3 linked regions of the Homo sapiens genome follow. The protein of the gene in region 3 purifies or fractionates together with the protein of the main gene of each other region. This does not show direct contact. Each region holds a gene or a part of one and is shown on either strand. Other genes may lie near its edges.

What was found. Proteins that work in one complex are often made in the same cells at the same time.
Region 1: the proteins of TOR3A (region 3) and B3GNT2 purify together in Homo sapiens (affinity purification with mass spectrometry; 2 studies listed by BioGRID and IntAct, with this or other methods). This does not show direct contact.
Region 2: the proteins of TOR3A (region 3) and OMA1 purify together in Homo sapiens (affinity purification with mass spectrometry; 3 studies listed by BioGRID and IntAct, with this or other methods). This does not show direct contact.

What each region holds. Positions count from the first base shown.
Region 1 is NC_000002.12:62,198,374-62,206,114, forward strand, and holds part of B3GNT2 (N-acetyllactosaminide beta-1,3-N-acetylglucosaminyltransferase 2), read left to right. Parts: intron 1-7,452; exon of another isoform or gene 7,453-7,544; intron 7,545-7,741. UniProt on the Homo sapiens protein: Beta-1,3-N-acetylglucosaminyltransferase involved in the synthesis of poly-N-acetyllactosamine. Catalyzes the initiation and elongation of poly-N-acetyllactosamine chains. Shows a marked preference for Gal(beta1-4)Glc(NAc)-based acceptors.
Region 2 is NC_000001.11:58,529,727-58,537,467, forward strand, and holds part of OMA1 (metalloendopeptidase OMA1, mitochondrial precursor), read right to left. Parts: intron 7,016-7,741; coding exon 6,787-7,015; intron 4,606-6,786; coding exon 4,432-4,605; intron 4,335-4,431; coding exon 4,227-4,334; intron 1,004-4,226; coding exon 875-1,003; intron 1-874. UniProt on the Homo sapiens protein: Metalloprotease that is part of the quality control system in the inner membrane of mitochondria. Activated in response to various mitochondrial stress, leading to the proteolytic cleavage of target proteins, such as OPA1, UQCC3 and DELE1.
Region 3 is NC_000001.11:179,077,116-179,085,638, reverse strand, and holds the start of TOR3A (torsin-3A precursor), read right to left. Parts: upstream 3,570-8,523; 5' UTR 3,511-3,569; coding exon 3,252-3,510; intron 2,700-3,251; coding exon 2,586-2,699; intron 12-2,585; coding exon 1-11.

The sequences.
Region 1 (7,741 bases), on a different chromosome or scaffold from region 3:
TAGCACTGCACCAGGAGAGCTAAGAAGTGCTTAATAAATGGTGGTCATTGCTGTAATCAATAGAGAAGTTCCTCCTGGCATCGACTTCCCCTTACCAAAAACAGTAACCCTGTGGTAGCCTTTTAGATTTCCCTGTCTGAGACTGAAATCAGCCACATTTGGCAGATGCACATCAGAAGGTTCTTAAAACCTAAGTAGTATTTTGAGGAAAATAAGCATGATTTGCTTGTTGTTCAAAAATTATGAATTTTTTTCTGGGCTTCTGGTGAAGGGCTGAATATATGAAGGTTTGTAGTTTTGAAAATTTTCTTGTTTTAAAGAAAAGTCATGTTTTAGGTTTCTGATAAACTAAAGTTGTGCTAAAAATAGGAAAGTAGAACTGATAATTCATAGTTGATTTTGACTATACTGTTCAGATATGTGGTTTTTTTTAAAAAAAATAGTTGCATTAGTGAGGCATCGTTGGTATGTTCTGAAGAGAAATATGCAGGGCTTTTTCAGCTGATGCAGGGATAAAAGAAAAGGTGAATCTTCTGTTTCTCAAACTTTGAAACTTAGCTTTAAATGTTTTTTTCTTTTTTTTTTGAAATGGAGTCTCACTCTCCCGCCCAGGCTGGAGTGCAGTGGTGCAATCTCAGCTCACTGCAACCGCTGCCTCTTGGATTCAAGTGATTCTCCTGCCTCAGCCTCCCCAGTAGCTGGGATTACAGGCATCCACCACCACGCCTGGCTAATTTTTGTGTCTTTAGTAGAGACAGGGTTTCACTGTGTTGGCCAGGCTGGTCTCGAACTCCTGACCTGGTGATCCACCCGCCTAGGCCTCCCAAAGTGCTGGGATTACAGACGTAAGCCACCGCGCCTGGCCTTAGCTTTAAATGTTTTCTAGCAATGCTAGGGTTTCATGAAAATCCTAATTTAGGGATGCTGATCCACAGCTGTTAATACTCTTGACATACTGGGTCAGTGCTTTTCATTCTTTCTGACTTGGTTAATGGATGTAGTATTTGACTGTATTTTTCTGTATTTTTTTGATGGTTTTATTGGAAAGTCTGTTAGAGACTTTAAAAATTAATAACTGCCTATGGTTACTTTTATAAACATTGAGACCTTGAGATCTTGCAACTAGGATAATACTTGGTGATGTGTAATCTATTGCAACATCCCTGATGGTGGTACATACATCACCAATACTGAAAGATTCTCATAAAGGCCTTTTGGTCTCTTATGTAAGTGCCCAGGGGAAACTAAAGTCATTTGGTTGCTTGGTATTTTTGGTGTGTACAGAAGGTTAAAACATGAATTAAACTAGACTCTGAAGTGGTAAATGTTTCCTGGCTGCATCCAGTAAAGAAAACAGCACAAACACCCAAAAGGTGTGGACCCAGCTGTCTTTTTCTCCACTCTCTAAGGTGGGATTGCTGTTCCTACGTACTTGCCAAATATGTCTGCAAATTACAGAATGAATACATTCCTCTCTCTGGAGAGGCAATTACTGTTTGAATAAGAGGTGTATGTATGTGTGGGGTAAGGTTTTGGGAGAATTGATGTAATGATTTCATCATCACTCACTGGTAAGGAGACTTTGCCAGGCTGGAACCTGTTACTTGATGGAGAATTTATTATTAGGGCTTATGTGGCACAATTACTTTGCTGCTGGAAAAAGTTATTTGTACTGAGTTTTCTATTTGTTACAAATTTTAAGAGTTGAGATTTTTGCCCTCTGTGTGTTGCCCTGTGAGTATTAACAACCTCTGCCCACCAGCTTTGTCTTTTTGCCTTGTCTTAATTTTTGTAACAAAAATTCAGATGTCTTTTGAGAGTCATAACATGTATCTTGTGCAATTTTAGCTTTAGGTATTTTCATATATAACTTTAAGAATGTTACACATTATTTTCTGTGCATCTATAACTTAAAAAAAACAAAAACCATTTTCTGATGTGGCTACAGAGGGGGAAATTCCCAGTAGCCAGGAAATTGATACTTTCTACTTTTCATTCTGTGGCATTTTAAAACAGAGGGTTCAGGTGTCTTCATTCTGATATGAGTAGGATGTACGTAGCTTACCAGAATGTTTGAAAAAAATGATAATCCAAGGTAATCAATTCTGGCATGTGGCTAGATTCTGTCCGAGTGCCATGTGGTGGTTTAGTGGTTAAGAGCATAAACTTGGAGTCCATAAGATGAGGATTTTTTTAACTTCATGTATAACATGCAGTAAAGTGTGAGAAGTGTTAATATTAAGCATGAGCTCATGTATGTAAGCTCTCAGATTAAGAAATAAACATTTTCAGTACTGCAGAAGGTTCCTGCGCCCATGTCTTGTCCGTGTTCCCACCCCCTCACCCTGAAGGAACTGTTATTCTTTCTTACATCATCATAGATGTGACTTCTGTCATCATAGATGGGTTTTACCTGTTGAACTTCATGTAAGTGGAATCAGTCATACAGTGTGGCATGTAGTCTTTTGTGAAATAGGCTTGAATTCTATTTTTACCACTTATTGTGTGACTACGGACAAGTTATTTAATCTGAGTCTCAGTTACGTATGGGAATGCCTAAAGTTAAAATTACACGAACTATTTCAGGATAAATTTTCTCACTTGTAAAATGGGGAAGATAAAGCCCTATGTTAGATTTACTGGGGAAAGTAATATAAAGCTACACCTAGAATACCTAGCACTGTGCCTGACTGCAGTTTCCTCTTCCCCTTTTTATTTCTTTAACAGGGTGATAACTAAAGCAACTAGATCTTTTGTGTTTAAATGAGCTATTTCATTAAAAGTTCTGTAGGTCTTTTATTGAAAATTAGAAGACAAATCTTTATTTAATACTTTGTTGATATAGCTTTAGCTTTAAGATGTATTATTTGTTAGTTGCCTGTTTTTGACATTTCCTCTCTAAAGACAGTCATTGAAATGTCCCATTCAGAGTTGTTTGGCCACCTGTGTAACATGAGCTAGGATGCAGTGATGAGAACTGGTTTATGGTCAATTATGGAGCTTGTGGAAGAGTTTAGTTTGGGTAAGAGTCATCAATAAGTGCCCAAGATGCTCACAACATCTGCTTTATGTTTAGTGAAATAATTATTTCAGAGGTGAAAGCACAGGACCAATTATTTTAATTGCTTGCTTCAGACAAGCCACTTAAAACATTTTCAGCTCTTGTAATCTTACCGTGTAAGCGGTATTACATAATTCCATGGCCTCATGTCTCCTTATTTGTTTGGTACTTTTCATTTTTGGACTCATTCTGCAAATGTAACTTGGGTAGTACTTGGCATTCTTTCTAAATGACTTTCATTAAATGTTTATTTAGAAAAAGTATTCAAGATAAAGTAAAGGAAAATAAAACTAATTCCACCCTCTCTCACCACTATAACTACATTAACTTGATGTGGGTCCTTCTAAGTGCTCATTTCTTCTTTTGTACACTTCTAGAATGACCTTAGGAAAAACATACTTCCAATACTTTATGGAAATTTAAAACAAAATATGGGCCTGCTTAGAGATGTCTAGCAGAGAAGGCAAGAGTCTTCGTAGGCCTAAGTTCAAATCTGTCCACACTGTGGTCCCTACTTGTACCTTTGTTAGTGCTGAGCAGACAGTCCCCAGAGACTCCATCAGAGGGTCCCCTGGTCTCCAGATTACAGTAGCCAACACGGAAAACCTGCCCTGGAATACTTCTCCATTAAGACCTCAAGATGTTTGGTGAAGTGAGCAGTTTGTTCTCCGACCAAACACGCATTGATTGAGCACTTGGTGTGTGCCTAGCACTGTGCTTGGCTGTGCGTGATTGCTGCCTTCAGTGGGCAGTGTGGTGGAGACAGCCAGGAACTGGTAAGATTGCCTTGGTAGAGGTGTAAGCCAATTATGTGTTGGAGGCAGCCAAGAAAGGCTTCTTAAGGAAGTGGCCTTTGGGCTTGGTCTTGAAGGATGTGAATAACATTTCAGAGGCAGAGAAAGGAAGGTAGAAGTGCTCAAGGGATTGTAGGCTGAGAAAACAGGACACAACAGAAAGGCTCATAGAGGTCTTTTGGGGAAACAGCAGGTGATCCATTGGGTTTGGAGTGCATGGTGCTTAGAAAGGTGTAATAGGCCATGATGCAATCTCGGGGATCATGCAGAGATGTGGCAGTTAATAGTTATGGAGGTAGTGAGGAACCAGTGAAAGTTCTTGTGGTCAGGGGAGAGAGAGAGAGGGTGTGGGTGCTGACAAGTTATGGCCAGGCTTGCATTGAGGAAGATGGGCCTGAGCGTGAATGAGGCGAGCCTGACCCCGGGCAGGTCATTGCAGTCCCTGCGTTCTCTGCTTCCCATTTGCCCCCTACCAGTTTCTCTCAGAAAGAAGCTGGAGGGATCCTTTAAAAACTGAAATGACTTGAGGTTACTTTTCTACTCAGAATCCTCCAGTCAGAATCCCTGTCTTCTTCAGAGGAAAGCCAGAGTTCAAATGTCACCTACCAGGACTGGTGATCTGCCCTCCTCCTCCTACCTCCCTTCTCCCCCTCATTTCACTCCAGGCACAAGGCCCCCAGCTTTCCTGCCTCTGGCCTTTGTGGTGACTGCTCCCCCTGCCTGGAACTATCCTCACCTCTTCTCTGAGAGGAGGTTTTCTCTGATCACCCGGCATAAAGCAGCCTTTCCTTATCCCCTGTGCAGTGCTTCATATTTCATCTAAGTGTTTATCAACCTTACAGCAATCAACTCTGACTTGGTTCTTTGCTGCCTGTTTTCAACACTGCTTGGTTTAAGTAGGCGTTTGACATTTGTTGAGTTAGGCCACTTCATTAAAGTTAGTCTTAGTAGAGGGGAAACTGAGGGCTCAAACCAGGGCAGGGATAGTACAAGATTGAAATATGTATGTGTGTTGTTTGGAAGAGGTGGGTGAGAGAAAGACTCCTGGTGGGTGTAAAGGAATTTGGAAACCAACTAAGGGAGGTTAGGAGAAGGGCCATGACACAGGTATATTGGGGCATTTTTTAGCATACGGGATATGGGAGTCTGTAGTGATGTCTAGGGGACAAGAATAGGGGGTAAGGGAAGACCCAGCAATAGACTTGGGCCCAGAACTGTGGAGCAAGTCCATTTTGTGGGATGGGGCCAAGGAGCAAAGGCTGCCAACATGCAAGAGAACCCTGGGGGTTCCTGAGCTTGGGGTGGGGTAGACATGGTGGCCAGCAGTATTGGGTGCCCTAGAAAGTCAGGAGGGTGCAAGGACTGCGAAGATTCTAGAAGGTGAGGGGGATTGGGAGGGTCAAGGCAGGACAAATGGGCATGACAAGGAGCATGTGCCTGGTGCCTTTGGAGAGGGAGAGGCTGAAGATGGGGGAAACAGTGGAGATTGCTATTGGTGCAAGACCCCAGAAGCAGCAAGAGCTGTCACAGGGAGTGGAGATCCTGGGAGTTGGGGGTCAGGGACTGGCTGATGTAGAGAACTTGAAGTAGGTTTTGGTCCCAGAGCTGACATCAAATGTCTTTGTAGCTATGGCAACCCACTTAGCTCCTGTTTCCCACCTCCCTGCAGAATCGCATGAAACCTGCACAGCCAATTTCACATGTTTATTATTGGAATCCATTGAACTCATGAATATGAAAGTGTTAATGCTCTGGGAAGATATTTCTATGGACCATAAACTTGCTGCAGTTTATTTGTGCTTCAGAATTTTTTTTGAGACAGAATTTCCCTCTTGTTGCCCAGGCCGGAGCGCAATGGCATGACCTTGGCTCACTGCAACCTCTTTCTCCTGGGTTCAAGCAATTCTCCTGCCTCAGTCTCCTGAGTAGCTGGGATTACAGGCATGCACCACCATGCCTGGCTAATTTTGTATTTCTAGTAGAGACAGGGTTTCTCCGTGCTGGTCAGGCTGGTCTCGAACTCCCAACCTTAGGTGATCCACCTGCCTTGGCCTCCCAAAGTGCCTGGTAGAAATTTTTCTAATTGTTTATTTTCTTTGAGAAGCACTTAACATCCAACTGGTTCTCCAAAGTACTTCTTTTTTGAGTCTTGATCAGGGAATAACACAATTGTGGTGAGTTTTATGTGCATGTGTGTTTTTAACCCTCCAGGTCTGGCTCTAGATTGTTCACTGGGAAGCCGAATGATATTTTCAGATTCAAATATATTTGTCTAATAATGAAAGGGTCGAAGTGTTACAAATGCTATCCTTTCTAAATAGTCAACATTTGGAACTAGTGAGATATATTTTTACCTTTATTATTTTATGGTTGTCTTTGAAGCTTGTTTATAAGGAACTTTTATGTAACTTTATTCTTGAGATGCAGCCATTATATTTTTGTTCTTTTCCTTTACCACATAAGGAATTATTTCCTTCAAATGAACTTAAAATATCTCTCATGAATACTCCTATTTTTAACTGAATGTTTCTCTTTTTTAAAAAACTTTTATTCTTCAAAGTTCTGATGGATCGTCTTTTTTTAACTCTTTATAATGGAAATTTTCAAACAAGTGCAGATACAGAGAATGGTATCATGAAGCTTCAGGTAGCCACCAGCGGCTTCAGGGTGATGATTCTTTATTTTCATCTCTACCCCACTCACGACTAGGGGCCCATGGGCACCATCTAGAGAGGGAGAGAGAAGAAGGTCACAATGGACCACAGAGTGGGCAGCCATCAATTTAGAGATAGCGGAGGCTGGGGGAGAAGATTGGACGCCCCCAGGGAGAGTGACAGGCAGACCGGCGAGATTGGAAGCCCGTGGCACTGGGATTGCTGTGGTCCCTCGTCCCTCCACATATGTGATCACCTATGGTATATGAAGGGAACGTGCAGAGACTCGTTTAAAACTGAGGTGACTCAAATTGCTTGGTAAAAGAGGCCCAGTTTTTAAGCAGTTCAATAGTGCCCACATATTGAGCAAACATGTTCTCTTTTTACTGTGGCGACAAAAACTTTTCTTGGCGGGTGGCCGGAGAAAGCTATGTTACTATTGCACTTCTTTAAATACGGAAGCAAGTCTTGGTCGAAGGCCTGAATGATGCCTCCCCTTTTATAGAACATTTGGATAAAAGGCCAAAGTGTTACTTTTTTTTGAGGATACGTATTTTAAAATGTATATGGTTTATTTTGATACTTAAAAAGCAACAACTTGAAAACAACAGTCCTGAAACACTTGTCAGTAAGGTGTTAGGATTTAACCAGCCTTTGAGAAAGGGAGAAGAGGCGGGACAGGAATCCGAGATGGAGCAGGGAGCTGGTTTGCTTCTTTGCCGCCTTGCTCTGAAGTTGCCACCCAGGGTCACACATCACTAGAAGTGTTTTCCTCTGGGAGGAGGATGATGTCTGACTGTGGAGAAGAGGCAGCATCCCAGAGGGAGCCCAATTTAACTGGATGCTCAGTGTGAGAGGAGGAGCGCTGGCATTTAGTGGCTGTGTGCCGTGGGCGGGGCCTGCCAGCCCTTGGCTGTCATTTGCCACCTGAGGGACAGGCTGCTTAGTTCCAGCCTCCTGGCTCACCTGGAACCATTTCTCCTGGGAAGCATGGTAGCCAGGAGAGTGGATTCCAGGTGGTGAGGGCTTGGTACTCCTTTTGGGGGATCCTGAGTGCCAGGAGAAGAGGATGAAATCGATGGACTGGGGGAATCAAGGCTGTCCTCATGGAAGAGGAGACAGGATTTGAACCTGGGCCTTCAAGGATGGGGGTAAGGATGGAGAGAAGCAAGATAAGGGATGTTTTAAGCCAGGAGAAACCAGGCTGAGAAGAGGTATGGGTGGGGAGGATA
Region 2 (7,741 bases), about 120 Mb from region 3:
TACGAAAAAACAATTTAAAAAACTACAACTTAAAAATATATATAGTAAAATAACTATTTACATAGCATTTACATTGAATTACAAGTAATCTAGAGATGATTTAAAGTATATGAGAGGATGTGCATAGTTACATGCAAACACCATGCTTTTATTTTTATTTTTATTTTTTTTTGAGATGTAGTCTCACTCTGTCGCCCAGGCTGGAGTGCAGTGGCGCAATCTCGGCTCACAGCAAGCTCTGCCTCCTGGGTTCACGCCATTCTCCTGCCTCAGCCTCCCAAGTAGCTGAGACTACAGGCGCCCGCCACAACGCCAGGCTAATTTTTTTGTATTTTTAGTAGAGACAGGGTTTCACCACGTTAGCCAGGATGGTCTCAATCTCCTGACTTCGTGATCCACCCACCTTGGCCTCCCAAAGTGCTGAGATTACAGGCATGAGCCACGGCGCCCGGCCAATACCATGCCATTTTTTATCAAGGACTTGAGCATACTCAGATTTTGGTATCCACAAGAAGTCCTGTATACCAAGGGACAGCTGAATTTGGGAGTCATTCAGTTACTACGAAAGGAAGGGTCAGTGGCTGGGTTTTCTCTCTGTAAAACCAATAAATATATTTTCAAAAATTTTATTAGCCAAAAGTTGCCAAGCCCTTCTAACTCTCCATACCCATCATTTGAGAGATGTAGTATTCCTTAATTTAAATATTCATATATAAGAATATCCCCTAAAAACGAGAAAACATAAGACACTAAAAATTCGTACCCATATTTCATAGTAAAATGTAAAAACATCTCTGGATTTGCTGCTTTACAGTAGTATTAAAATATCTTCACCAGAGGCTATGATCAATTCAAGTTATTGTCTCAGACTTACCTCCTGCAATTTAGACTGTATCCACTGGCACAAAAGTGCCAAGCTATCTCGAGGACAAATGGCCCAAATCATTGTGAGGAAAATCATACCTAGGAAATCCAACAAATGAACCATGCCAGCCTTTTCTGCCTAAGAATAATCAAAATAATAAAAACTACATTTTATACATTGAGACAGTATATGCTTACATTTTCTAGTTCATCATGTGTTACAATTACCTGACCTTCTCCACCTAAGACTGAGAGTTCTCTTTTTCTTCTTTTGCTTATTCTTTCCGGGTCTGTTTTTCCCTTCCTTGGTTTATCTACTTATATACCTATTCATTCATTTAACTAGTATCTACTAAGCCACTTACTATTAGTCAGAGGATATAAACCTACAATTTCTTATATTAACAGGCATAATAATCTTGTGAAATAGCTACAATTATCCCTACATTTATAGATAATGAAACTGAGATAGAGAGAGGTTAAGAGTTGCCCAGATTTGCACAGCTATTACTAAAAGGACCAGAAATCAAACCCGGTCAGTTTTAGTTTTTAATATAGTTGCATCATTTTAAAAAATCAAGTAAATGTTTTATTTTACTAATATTTTTGGATAAAGACTAAACACTACCTAACATATGAAGCACTTAAAACAAGAAAAAATTCAGAAAAAGACTGGAAGTTTATTTTAAATAAAAGTATTCTGATCTTCAAGACCTAATATATGAAATATTATTCATTTATACAAGTTTGTAAATTTGTAAGTCTAGTATTTATCATGAAAGAATCAGGTTCTATGAATTTTTGTATTTACTTATATCAGTTACCAAAAAAGATTTTTCATAAAATAGTTGTTTTGAGTAGTAATATCTAAGTTTAATGAACTAGATTGTTCATGGTTTGCCATTAAAGGTGATTAGTAAATGTTAATGTTGTAATGCTGAAACTGATAAAATAGCAGTCATTACTTGAATGTATGAAAAATGACTGAAAACTAAAAACTGACTTAGAATATTGTCCCTTAACAAATATTGTACCCTCACAAAACATACTTTACCTCCTTATATTTGCCTCATTACTTTGCCTCAAAACACAAATGTGTGTTTTGAAAAACAATTATGGATTTATCTTTTTTTTTTTGAGACAGAGTCTTGCCCTGTTGCCCAAGCTGGAGTGCAGTGGCGAGGTCTCGACTCACTGCAACCTCCGCCTCCAGGTTCAAATGTTTCTCCTGCCTCAGCCTCCCGAGTACCTGTGATTACAGGTACCCACCACCATGCTCAGCTATTTTTTGTATTTTTAGCAGAGATGGAGTTTCACCATGTTGGCCAGGCTGGTCTTGAACTCCTGACCTCATGATCCACCCACCTCAGCCTCCCAAAGTGCTGGGATTACAGGGGTGAGCCACTGTGCCCAGCCCAATTATGAAATTATTTTAACATGAAAAAGTGAAACTCAAAATAAGGAAGTTGTTATAGAAGAGAAAGCCCTTGTTATTAAAGAATATAATTGCTATTATACAGTCTTAGAAAACTGGAAATACACACACAAAAACCTGTATTTGTAGAATAAAGAAAACATAAACGCCTAGATAAAATCAAAACTGAGACTCCCAAAAGAGAAAATATTGTGCTGACAATGTTTAAGATCTCTGCAAAAACATATTAATAACTATGTTCTATTTTTAAGGCTGCTGTTTGCTTTTTACACCTCATCTACTACTGTTCTTGCACTGATAGAGATGACAATACACTGAATATAAGGCACTGAACTAGATGCCTAAAAAACAAATGTACTGAATAGTAACACCTTTCAAATGCTAAAATGGCCAAAACTGATTTTGCAGTTGTGAAGCCATTACTTGAAAGATATTAGAGTGCATATAATAACACTGCTTAGACGTATTCTTGTGTATATTTGTTTAAGAAAAAAAGATTTTTTTTCTTACTTTTTTGTTTGAGACAGTGTCTCACTCTGTCACCCAGGCTAGAGTGCAGTGGTGCGATCATGGCTCACTGTAGCCTTGATCTCCCAGGCTCAAGCAATCCTCCTGCCTCAGGCTCCAGAACAGCTGGAACTACAGGTGTGAGCCACCATGCTCAGCTAATTTTTAAAATTTTTCTGTACAGACTGAGTCTATGTTGCCGAGGCCAGTCTCAAACTCCTGGGCTCAAGCAATACTCCTGCCTCAGCCTCTCAAAGTGCTGGGATTACAGGTATAAGCCACTGCACCCAGTCAAGAAAAATGTTTTTAAAATCTTCCTGTAACTCAAAAGAAATCAAGGAGATAATTACTTTCAGTGTTTCAGAAAAACAATTTAGCCCATCTCATCTTATTAATAGTCTAAGGAACAGGTAGAATTTGAGATTACTCTTAGAAGGATTAGAATCATTATCATTTCCATTTGAAGTTAATGTTACTTGTATTTCTGATTTAGCATTTCAGTCACTTCACTATGTACCTTTGCGTTTACAATTTAAAAAATACTTTCTCTAATGTAGACAAAAGAGCCATTTATATTTTTAAATGAATAACAATTTAAAAAATGTGTGAAACAGATGTGTTATTTTTCCTGGACTTATATCAAGATGAACAGACATGTATTCACAGGAGCATACATCAACTTGAATTCTATGATCTATAAGAAAAGCGCTGCTAAAAACCAGGTAACTGTAGTGAAAGGAAGAAACACTGGACTAACATACAGAAGACCCACGTTAAAGTCCCAGTTCGGTTACTTTGTCAGGTTAGTCATGTTACTGTTTTTCTAAACATTAGTTTTCTCTTATATAAAATAGTAATAATAAATACATACCTCATTGGGTATTAAAATTATGAATGGGAAGCCACATATACTAAAAAGCTCAGTAAACTGTAAAATGGCAAGGTATTGTTATTACTCTGTATTAATTACACATGACACATCATTCTAGACATTTTCAAAGATGCTCCAAGCTATCCTCTGAGAATGAATAAAAAAGAAAGATGATTTACCCACTTAAATAGTAATATCACTTCCCTACAATTAATTTTCTGACTAGATTACAAGTATATTAATAATTATAGAAAGTTTAAAATTTAATTTGAAATAATTAGGGGTTGAGAATAATTACGTTTTAGCAAAAGAGACAGGTGATAAAAATAGTATTTAAGAAAAATATTATTCAGTATCAAATACTAAAGACCATAAAAATTCTCAAAATTAGCCAATCACGTTTTTTTCAGGTAGCAGATTAAGGCAATTACCCAAAACTAAAAGTCTATCATTTTTAAAAAACCTGAAAAAAATCAGTTCTTTAAAAGATTTAACTTGTTAACTTCAAAGCAGTTTTTCCAAACCTGAACATTCATTTTAGGTACTTACAGCATGCCCAAGTACTGCATGTGCTATTTCATGGCCCAGAAGGAAAGAAAGTTGATGAATATCGGTTACACTATTTAAAAATCCAGTGAAAACAAACATTTGTCCATTCTGCACCACAAAGAAAATAATGTAAGCAATTAGAACATCATAAAAAATAAGGACAATAAATTTAACAATTACAATGCGTTTGAGAACATTTACTTACTGGAAGCACGAAGGCATTAATAATTGGGGAATCAACCACATGAATAACCCAATTGATCTGAGAGATCCCTGGAACATCTTTATTGCATTCAATTAGATGACAAAGCACTTCTTTAACAGCCAGGTATCGGGCATCTTTCTCAGTTAGCATATCATTTTTAAATTCTTCCATCCACTGAAAGATTAAAAATTACTTCTTATTTTAAAAGAGCACTACAAAATGCTTACTCTGCTTCATGGAAAGTTATATGGCTACTTATTATTGAACATTTTAAGTTTTAATTATATAAAAATCTGCATATATTAAGCACTGAAATTTCTCAAATCTGAATTATTCATGCAAAGACAATGTGGTTTCTTACAAAGGAATAAATTCTAATACTAAGTTTTTTTATGAATAGATTGACATCAAAATTTCATTCTTTTCGATTAAACTACAAACGAATACTTAAGTATTATTTCTACTTTCCTAAACATTTTAGAAAACACTGCCTAGGCCAGGGCAAGATGGCTCACGCCTGTAATCCCAGAACTAGGGGAGGCCAAGGCAGGAGGATCACCTCAGCTCAGAAGTTCAAGACCAGCCTGGGCAACATGGTGAAACCCCGTCTCTACCGAAAACACAAAAAATTAGCCAGGCGTGGTGGCATGCACCTGTGTTCCCAGCTACATGGGAGGCTGAAGTGGGAGGATCGCTTGAGTCTAGGAGGTGGAGGTTGCAGTGAGCTGAGATCTCGCCACTGCACTCCAACACCAACCTGGGTGACAGAGGGAGATCCCATCTCAAAAAGAAAAGAAAAGGAGAGCCTGGAGAACTTAAGATTTCATCTAAGTAAAATACAAAAGAAAATTAAATTCACAATGCATTGAACAGAAAAACACCCTATACCTAATAAGAAAGTTAAACTACCAAAATAGACATTTCATTAATTTTAAGGTGTTTTACTCACAGATTGAAAGGAAATTACTGAATTCTCAGAACTAATGAGCATTATCACTGTCTCTAAAAGATGCTGATTAAGACTAGCCACCACAGAAGATACTTTTTCTGAAGTTATATTCATGAGAGCTCTTTCAAGTGTACTGAGAAAATTAAAAATGTTCTGAAATATTACTTTAACTTTCATAAAGTGTATGCTTTTTTTCACTTAAGAATCAACAAGCGGCTGGGCATGGTGGCTCATGCCTGTAATCCCAGCACTTTAGGAGGTGGGCAGATCACGAGGTCAGGAGATCAAGACCATCCTGGCCAACACGGATGAAACCCCATCTCTACTAAAAATACAAAAATTGGCCAGGCGTGGTGGCGCACGCCTGTAGTCCCAGCTACTCGGGAGGCTGAGGCAGGAGAATAATTTGAACCTGTAAGGTGGAGGTTGCAGTGAGCCAAGATGGCACCACTGCAGTACAGCCTGGGTGACAGAGCAAGTCTCTGTCTCAAAAAAAAAAAAAAAAAAAAGATTCAGCCATGCCAAAGCTGTCAAGTGAGGCTACTGGACATGAATTCGAAAAATATTAATTGAGCCACAGGGCACATAACATGTGTATGTGCTATGAACTGGAGAGAAAATGACCTCTGTCCCTAAGAAACTCACTAGGGTACAAAATGTTTAACTACCTGAGTTACTATACTTTCCAAAGAGGTAAGACTTCTAAATTATAACTTAAATTTGGATTCAAAAAATATAATAAATTGCTAAAACTGATGTTTGGGAAAAAAATCTTATATTACTTGATTTTCAAGGTATAAGAATTCTGACTATAAATCTATTTATTCAATAAATATATACTAAGCTCTACTCTTACATACTGTGTTAGTATTTAAAACCATAAACAAAACAGGTAAGATCCCTGCCCCCATGAAGCTTAGTCTAACAAGAAAGACAATCAAAAAAATAATTATGCAAATAATTATGTTACTCTCATGAGTGCTTTGAAGGAAAAGTACAGTATGCAGAGAAAAAAAGCCTAGGAGACCTAACCCCAGTAAAGCCAAGCAATGGGCGCAACTACAAATGAGCTGGTTCATAATTCAGTCGGTATGAAGGATACCTCCTAGGGCCTGATCCAGTCACCCTGCCTAACCCAGTCTGGATAATCAAGGAAGGTTTTCCTGAGAAAAGTGACATTTAAGGTGAAATGTGCTGAGCAGGAGTTAGCTGGGTGAATGCTAGGAAAAGCAATGTAGGCAGTAGGAATACTAAGTGTGAAAGGTCTGAGGCCTTCGGGAAAAAAAAATGCTAATTTCATATCAAAGACTAAAATTAAAAAACAACATATCTTTCACATTTAAGATACTTTCCTACTTTGAGTGTTATATTAAGCAGTCTAATTAAAAACAACTCTTACTACTTACTGCTTCATATTCCAGTTCCGATAAAAGTCTGAACTGTTCTTTCCCCAATAATAGTAGCTTGCTCCTTCCTGTGATTGGACTTACTTCCAGGTGAGTAAAATAAAACACCACAAAGAGCAATCCAAAACTACTCAAACCAAGGAATAGCTTCCATTTATTCTTCCTTATATTTTCTTTAACTACTTCCTTCTTGTTAGGAGGAAGTGCCTGCCACCATTTCCTTATGCCCCTAAAGCAAAAAGAAAAATTCAAAGTTCTGAAAATCATTCCAGCACATATCACTAAAGCTCAAATGCATACACTAGAATTTTACGTCCTCAAATACCTGAATTTGTATGATGTATTTCGCTGAATACATCGCTTTTCCAATTAATAAAATTCTTAGCTAAATGATGAAAAAATAATCAATGATGTAAAGTTACAGTTAAAAAATTCTAATACTCATCGAAATTTTCTTCTTCAGCTATTTTAAGGATAAACACTAAATGAGATGCTAGTTTACTATAACTACCACTGGTTAATATTTATTACTATCTAGTACATGCAAAATTCTCTCTCTCTCTCTCTCTCTCTGTATATATATATATACCATCTCATTTAATCTTCATAATAACCCTGTTACAGAAGATAAAATTGTTAGGTAACTTGTCCATGGCCACTGAGGTAATAAAAGGAAAACCAAGCAATGAAGGCAATGACATTCCAGAGTCTGACCACTTAGCCACTTAATAGGGATAAATGCCTAAATAATTATGTAAGAGGTTACAGTACAATAAATCTATACCTGGAACCACTACTTTTCCCACTGCTCCTCAGACCTCCAACACAATTTGCCAGTGATTCCACAAGGTACAAGGGAAACTGCCTCAGCATTCATTTTGGAAATAAATAGTGCTCAGTAGCAGAAACTCCACTATCCTCTTTACAACGTGAAAAAGGAGAGATAACAAGATCC
Region 3 (8,523 bases):
CCACTCTAAGCCTAAGGACAGGAAAGAGGTAGTCACAGCAAAAGGCACACACAGGCCCATCCACCACAACAGCCAACAGCCAAGAAACCAAGCAACTCTGAATCTCTCTCGGGTGGAATCAGTTACTCCTCCTGTTTGGCCTTAGAATAAGAAGCCAGAGGGCAGACTTTGTAGCAGAAGGGATTCAAGGACTACTTTCTTTTTTTTTTTTTTTTTGAGATGGAGTCTTGCTCTGTCACCAGGCTGGAGTGCAGTGGCGCAATCTCAGCTCACTGCAACCTCCGCCTCCCTGGTTCAAGCGATTCTCCTGCCTCAGCCTCCCGAGTGGCTGGGATTACAGGTGCCCACCACCATACCCAGCTAATTTTTGTATTTTTAGTAGAGACGGGTTTCACCAGGTTGGCTAGGCTGGTCTTGAACTCCTGACCTCGAGATCCGCCCACCTCGGCCTCCCAAAGTGCTGGGATTACAGGCGTGAGCCATTGCGCCCAGCCTCAAGGACTACTTTTTGAAGAGTTTGGGAAATCAAGATGGGACTCAGGGAGAGTGGAATCACCCTTCCTAAAGATCCTGCAGATACCCAGAACAGTTGGCACAGACCTGTCTAGGGAGGAACCCTGTCCCCCATGTCCTGAGGCTGCTCCCATCCCTTGGTTTCAGGGCTCCCTGTTTTATGGAGAAGCCTGATTTTATTCATTCTCATTCAATTCAGCCAACACTTGGTGAGAGCAGCTCCAGTGTGCAAAGCCTTCTGCTAGGTCTAACTTCCTCCTGTCAGACGTGAGGTTGTAGGATTTGGAGATGGCGCTACCAGGAGCCACAGTGCAGACAGGCAGGGTGTGCGGCCAGCTGTGGGTGAGCATTCCAAATCCAGGATCAATTGGTTGAACACCTTAAGCCAGCCCAGAGCAGGTATTCTGGAGCCTTGGGAGGTCAAGGTCTATGATAAAACATTGAGGGCATCACACATTGCTCCAAAAGTAGTAGTGACATAGAAGAAAATTAACATTTGCTGCTTTTTTCTCTGTATTCAGAACTGGGCTAAGTGTTTTACATTTGGTCTTCACAATTCTGCAAGGCAGGCATTATTATTCCCATTTAAAGCTGAGGAAACTGGCTGGGCGAGGTGGTTCCCGCCTGTAATCCCAGCACTTGGGGAGGCTGAGGCGGGCGGATCACGAGGTCAGGAGTTCGAGACCAGCCTAGCCAACATGGTGAACCCCCTCTCTACTAAAAATACAAAAATTAGCTGGGCATGGTGGTGGGCACCTATAATCCCAGCCACTCGGGAGGCTGAGGGAAGAGAATCGCTTGAACCTGGGAGGCAGAGTTTGCAGTGAGACGAGATTGCTCCAGCCTAGGTGACAGAGACTGACTTGGTCTCAAAATAAATAAGTAAAAAAAATAAAATAAAATACAGCTGAGGAAACGGACACTTGGGAAGGACTCTTCAGTTTGCCAGCAAGGAAGAGGCACGACTAGGAGGGGTCTCCAATCCGCTGGCCAGAACAATTTGGATATCCAGGCCCTTGTCGAACAAAAGGCATGTTGAGGACAGAAAGTAACTTGCTAATTGCTACCTAGGGTCTTATCCAAGTCAGCAGTGATCCAAATTAAGACTTCCTGACCTGTATGTAGTCCTATCTTCTGTCCTGAGCCAGACTGTGTCCCTAAACACACTGTGTTATTGGCATTTTGGCCAATTAAGTGACCTAAATATCTGGGGTGGGCCTCATTTATGGAGATTGAAGGACCTGGGATCAGGAGAACTCTGGGCAAGAAATTGCTCCTGGGGAAAAGAGAGGAAGCTTTTGCAAATGTCTGAACAGGTTTCAGAACATGGGGCCAAAGATCACCTTGTGAGAGTGAAAATGCAAATCAACTGCGATATGCAAATCAAGCAACCCAAACTAATTAGAAAATACTGGTTGCCATGGCACAGTGGCTCACGCCTGTAATCACAGCACTCTTGGAGGCCAAGGCAGGCAAATCACAAGGTCAGGAGTTCGAGACCGGCCTGGCCAACATGGTGAAACCCGCCCCCCCCCCCCCCCCCCGCCTCTACTAAAAATACAGAAATTAGCCGGACGTGGTGGCAGGCACCTGTAATCCCAGCTACTCGGGAGGCTGAGGCAGGAAAATTGCTTGAACCCAGGAGGCGGAGGGTGCAGTGAGCTGAGATCGCACCACTGCACTCCAGTGTGGGTGACAGAGCAAGCCTCCGTCTCAAAAAAAAAAAAGAAAAGAAAGGGACACTTTTAATCACAACCCAGAATTTCTGATCAGTTCTCTCTGGATAGTTCCAGCCCCCTCTGAGAGGTAGCTGTTTCTGTTTAGAGTGAAACAAGGTGCTCTGGGCCTGACAAACAGCTCAGTTTGCCTGGGCTATTAAGCTAGAGGCTAAAAAGGGGCTTCCCTGACTCAAGCATTTGGTACTCCCTCAAAACTTCAGTCAGACTGTGGCAGTTCCTGCTTGTCGGGAGGCTGGGCAGGATGACGAAAGGTCCCTTGCATCTAACCATTTCCCCTGGACTGCCTCCCCTCCCCACAGATCCCTAGCCCCTTGAAGCCATGCGGGGTCCAACCTGTAAAGTTGTTGGAGATTCTGCAATCCCCTCTAGGGCAGCAGTCTTTGAAGCTGCAGTACCACGTGGTCAGGAGGTCCAGGTACCGCTGGCCCAACAGAGGAAGGCGCCAGCCTGGAAAAGGAGGAGCTGTGAGACCGAGAGGAGACCATCCGGTGCTCTACAGTGATGCGGCAACCTTGCCACACAACTTGTCAGGGACAGAGGGACACCCAGAACTCAGATTCTAACTCCCAGCCCCGACTCGGCCCACTGTCGGTCCTCAAGCCCTGCGTCCAAAAGCAGCAAGGGAGACGGCAGTCACCAGGCATGTCCACAGCGGACGTTCCCTAGAGCTGTCAAGAGCAACACCTTCGAATAACGCCAGGGTGGGCTGGGAGATGGCACAGGCGGTGCGAGAGAATCTGGAAAGCGCAGGGATCAGGGGAGGCGGGGGACGGGAAGCCGGGCGCCAGGGGGGTGCGCAGGGGACGCGGGTGGGGCAAGGGCGGTGATGGGGCTCCCTGCTCCGCGGAGGCTGCCCCCGCCCACAGCCGGTACCGGCGGCTGAGCAGAGCAGGACTGCGGGCCCAGATGTCGCCCCGGACAGGAGCGAGGCGACCACAGCCGCGCCCGGATCGCACTCTGCTCCGCAGCGAACGGCGGACCGTGGGGACGGGGTCTTACCCAGGGGCCCCGTGGCTGCCTCCTCGTCCTCGTCACAGTCGTCGGGCCACACCTGGCAGCTGAAGAGCGTCCAGTACCGCTTGGAGAGGGCACCCGCCGCCCTGAGCTGCTCCTGCAGGCGCTGGAAGCCCGGCCAGGCCCAGGCCGAGCCCGGCTCGTCGGTTCCCTCCCACGGCCTGGAGGCGCCGCGGGGCTCAGGCGCGCCCGGGAGCAGCAGCAGGAAAAAGAGCCAAAGCTGGCGCCACGGACCGCGAAGCATGGCCGGCCCCGAGCTGCGGGACCATCCGGCTGCCGGCCTAGCCAGGCTCCCTTAAGCCCGGGGCGGTCAGGCGGGGACCGCACTTCCTAGGCGGGCTTGAACCCGGGATTGGTGTTGCTGTGGCGACCGGCGGGCCGGGCTGAGTGCGCACTGGCAGCCTCCGTACACGTGACCCAGGCGGGAACCCGAAACCCTGTCTGGGGTCCTGAGAGGCAGTCCCGAGACTGACTTCAGGCCAGGTGCAACTAGCCGGCTTCCAGGAAGCAGTTTATTCTGGGTCGTGATTGTGGTTGCAAAGAAGGTGAACTCAGGCTTTGAAATGGCCACTGTCAATCACTCCGCTAGGACTTTCGGACGGCTCTGGTGGCCCATCAGAGGCCTACCGAATAAGGACACTCCTGCTTTGCCTCGCGTTTGCAGATCAACTTCCCGCCAACCTGTTAGAGGAAGCCGGAAAACCGTCTCAGTCAGGAGCGTTAGGCAGGCCAGGGGAGTCAGCTGAGTGGAGAAGAGGCCCTGGAAAGAAGGGCACAGCTAGGTGCCTGTCTGGCCAAGGTTGCCCTGGCTCCTCCGCAGAGGGAAATGAAACCGCAGCAAAACACCAGCAGGTTTCCACAGTGGGAGTCCACGAAAAGCAAGAGGAAGCTGATTGACGGGCTCCAGTCTGGAGGTGTTTGGAGTTTGGAAACCCCCCGAGTCATGGGTAAATCATGAGGCGTCATGTCAATGTAATTATATCTCATAAAAATCCGAAGTACTGTGTGCACTTTCTTGACTAGGTTTGCAACTTTCAAGTGCTGGGACTGAGCAGCCCATCCGACACCATTGGCAAAAGACTACAGGGCCTCTTTCCCTCAGCGCTCTCTTCTCCATAGCGAGGAGCATGGAACAAGGCTGTTAGATTTCAGAAGAGCTTAATGCATTGTTTAAAATCACCTGGCTTACTTCAGCCAAGCCAAAAAGCCGTCTTGTCTTAGGAGAAAACTGCTGTCTAGAGAGATCAGAGGACTTGGCTAATGTCATATGTTTAGTGGCTTTGAGGTTGGGCCCTCCAGACAGTAAGGTGAATACTAGCACCGTGTCTCACAAATGTCACAGGCAACTTGATTCATCTGTTCACCCCAGTCTCTTAGATCACACCGTGCCAGGTCTGCTCCATTCTCAGCAGCTCACCAAATTTGTGCCTTTCATTCGAACAGCTACAGAAACTAGATAAAGCACCTTTGCTAGGACACGAGGTTGAGTTGAAAAGTAAAATGTTTATAGTGTCTCAGCCATTCAGTGTGATGTCAAAAACTTTTCATAGAGTAGCAGCCATGGCACCAGCCCAGCACTGTGTACATCGAGCTTGCGGAGTCCACCGGAGACAGTTAACAGCACATACACCACAGTGCTTATTGGAAAACCAAAAAAAATTAGGCAGGGTGTGGTGGCTCACGCCTGTAATCCTAGCACTTTAGAAGGCCGAGGCGGGCGGATCACCTGAGATCAGGAGTTCGAGACCAGCCTGGCCAACATGGTGAAACCCAGTCTCTACTAAAAATCCAAAAATTAGCTGAGTGTGATGGTGCGCATCTGTAATCCCAGCTACTCAGGAGGCTGAGGCAGGAGAATGGCTTGAACCCAGGGGGCAGAGGTTGCAGTGAGCCAAGATGGTACCACTGCACTCCAGCCTGGGTGACAGAGCAGGGCTCCATCTCAAAAAAAAAAAAAAAAGAAAAAAGAGAAAAGAAAAAAAATTAACTCACTCAACAAATGTCGTTTGAGTCTGAATGGCAGTCTAATATAGTGATTACCATTTTCTATTTGTGCAACCATGGATGTTACTGAACCGTCCCATGCCTGTTTCCTCACCTATAAAAAGGGATAATAAAATAGTCCCCTCATAGGGCTGCTGTGAAGATTAAATGAGCTCATTCAATGAGCACATCATCAACACTCAATACGTGGCCAGTTTTATTTTTGTATCTACCCAGCCATGGAGGAGGCTCTGGGTGGTCTACACAGGAGGCAAGGATGGCTTTAGTTAATACTGGTGGTTTATAAGTGAATTTATGGTGAAAAAATTAATAGTAACAATAGTTTATTAAAACAATCCAAGTTTTAAGATGTTGTGGAAAGAATTATCTGTACTTGGAACTTTTATGTAGGGCTACCTGCTCATTTCTGAGATGTTCTGACTTGGATTTAGCATCCCATTGTAAATAAAGTAGGTTAGCTGGGAAGTTCTTCGACAACCAACTTGATTTCAAGACATTTTTATTATTTATTTATTTATTTATTTATTTATTTAGAGACGGAGTCTTGCTCTGTCGCCCAGGCTGGAGTGCAGTGGTGCAATCTCGGCTCACTGCAACCTCCGCCTCCCCGGTTCAAGCGATTCTTCCCCCTCAGCCTCCCAAGTAGCTGGGATTACAGGCGTTCACCACCACGCCCCCGCTTTTTTTTTTTTTTTGTATTTTTAGTAGAGACGGGGTTTCGCCATGTTGGCCAGGCTGGTCTCGAACTCCTGGCCTCAGGTGATCTGCCTGCCTGCCTTAGCCTCCCAAAGTGTTGGGATTACAGGCGTGAGCCACTGCGCCTGGCCGTTTTTTTCCAAAAAAAAAAAAAAAAGAGGTAAACACTTTTTCACCAAAGAGTCAGTCCCGTGTAGAAACAATAAATCCAAACACCAGTTTCTAGATACGTCTCTTGAGTATTTCAATAAATACTCCTTTCCGTCTCAGGCCTTGGAGGCTGTGCTCGTTTTAAAGTTCTGGAAGCAGTATCTCATGGATGACGGGGACATCTAGAGGCTGCTGGGAAAACTACAGACAACTATGATTCTTTAGCAAGCATTACGGTGCTACTCAAGGGCGGTTCCAGAACCCCACCACTGGCATCACCCAGGAGCTTGTTAGAAATGCAGAATCTCAGGCCCCAGACATACTGAATCAAAACCTGCACTTTAAGAAGGTCTTTCTGTGCAGGGAGCCATGGCTCATGCCTGTAATCCCAGCACTTTGGGAGGCTGAGGCAGGAGGGTGGCTTGAAGCCAGAGTTTCAGACCAGCCTGGGCAATAAGGCTAGACCCCTTGTCTCTACCAAAAATAAAAATAAAAAATAAGCTGCGTGTGGTGGTGCGCGCCTATAATCCTAGCTACTTGAGAGGCTGAGGGAGGAGGATCACTTGAGCTCAGGAGTTCGAGGCTGCCAATGAGCGATGATTGTGCCATTGTACTCCAGCCTGCGTCAAAGCAAGACTGTCAATCCAAAAAAAAAAAAAAAAGCCTAAGGCAAAATTGGCACACAACACCTTTATTGATGTCATCTGAGTATGACCTAGCTTTACAACAGACATCTTCCCAACCCCACTGAAGGCAATCAGAACCATCTGCCTTGGAAACACTGGGTCAAAAGCAAGTCTCGGCCTGGGACGGTGGCTCACGCCTGTAATCCCAGCACTTTGGGAGGCCAAGGCAGGTGGATCACTTGAGGTCAAGTGTTTGAGACCAATCAGCCCGGCCAATATGGAGAAACCCCGTCTCTACTAAAAATACAAAAATTAGCCGGGCGTGGTGGCATGCGCCTGTAGTCCTGGCTACTCGGGAGGCTGAGGCAGGCGAATTGCTTGAACCTGGGAAGCGGAGGTTGCAGTGAGCTAAGATCGCGCCATTGCACTCCAGCCTGGGCACTGCAGTGAGATTTGGTCTCAAAAACAAAACAAACGCAAGTCTCCATATTTAAATAACCCTGCATGAGAAACATTACAGGAATGTTTCCCAGCTCATCTATGTTCCTTTAACATCTACACAGCACTTGAGGTGGACTGAGAATGTCCTCAAGAGACAGGGCACACAAACATTTCCTAGAACAATGAGAAACCCCTGAAGCGATATTTCTGGTGACCCAGATACTGAAAATACAGGCCCAGAAGGCCCTGTATCCACTAAGCAAATAGTTCTGCATTTCCGGAGTCAGGGGTTCTATACACACCTCTCGTCAAGCCTGGATCAATCTCCACTTTTTCAATGTAGGTACTGCCTAACCCAATCCCTCCCAATCCCCACCTCCATGATCCTCTCCCGTTTCTTATTCTCACTGCAATTAATTTATATAATTCCTGAGGGACTTGGTGCCTCACAAGCAGTTTTTTTTTTTTTTTTTCTGCCAGGTCTAGACTGCAGGCTCTTTGAGGGAAAAGACAGTCACTATCATCTCAATGGTATACCACAGCTTGCAGCACAATGGCCCACAGATCTACTGATGACAGACCAAATATCTCACAAATTGTGATTTAATACCATTATTCCTTGGGGCTTATACTGCAACTTACCTTACAAAACCCTACCCATGGAAATCCAGTGGCTATGACCATTCCTATCTATTTTACAAAATGACGACTGCTAAAAATCAGTCTAATAAGCAAACATACTAGGTAAAATTACCCAGTAACAGAGCCCCGCCCTCCCTACTCCCAGCTACCTTTTTCAAACTCTAATACCAGTCGTTCTGATATGCTTGAGAAGCAAATGAATCCTGAACTCTAGCCTGGAAAAGAATTTGTATGTGGTGAGTCAGTGAGATACACAGACCAGGCTCTACTAGCCTCCCACATGTATTCATGTACAAATGACAAAAACTAGCACAAATATGCTGCAAATAAAATAGTTTTGTTTTGTTTTTTGAGACAGAGTTTCGCTCGTTGCCCAGGCTGGAGTGCAATGGCACGATCTCGGCTCATTGCAACCTCCGCCTGCTGGGTTCAAGCAATTTTCCTGCCTCAGCCTCCGAGTAGCCGGGATTACAGGCGCCTGCCACCACACCCAGCTATTTTTTTTTTTTCTTTTTTTGAGACTGAGTTTCACTCTTGTTGCCCAGGCTGGAGTGCAATGGCACAATCCCAGCTCTCCGCCTCCCGGGTTCAAGCGATTCTCCTGCCTCAGCCTCCCCAGAGTAGCTGGGATTACAGGCATGCACCAAGCTGGCTAATTTTGTATTTTTAGTAGAGAAGGGGTTTCACCATGTTGGCCA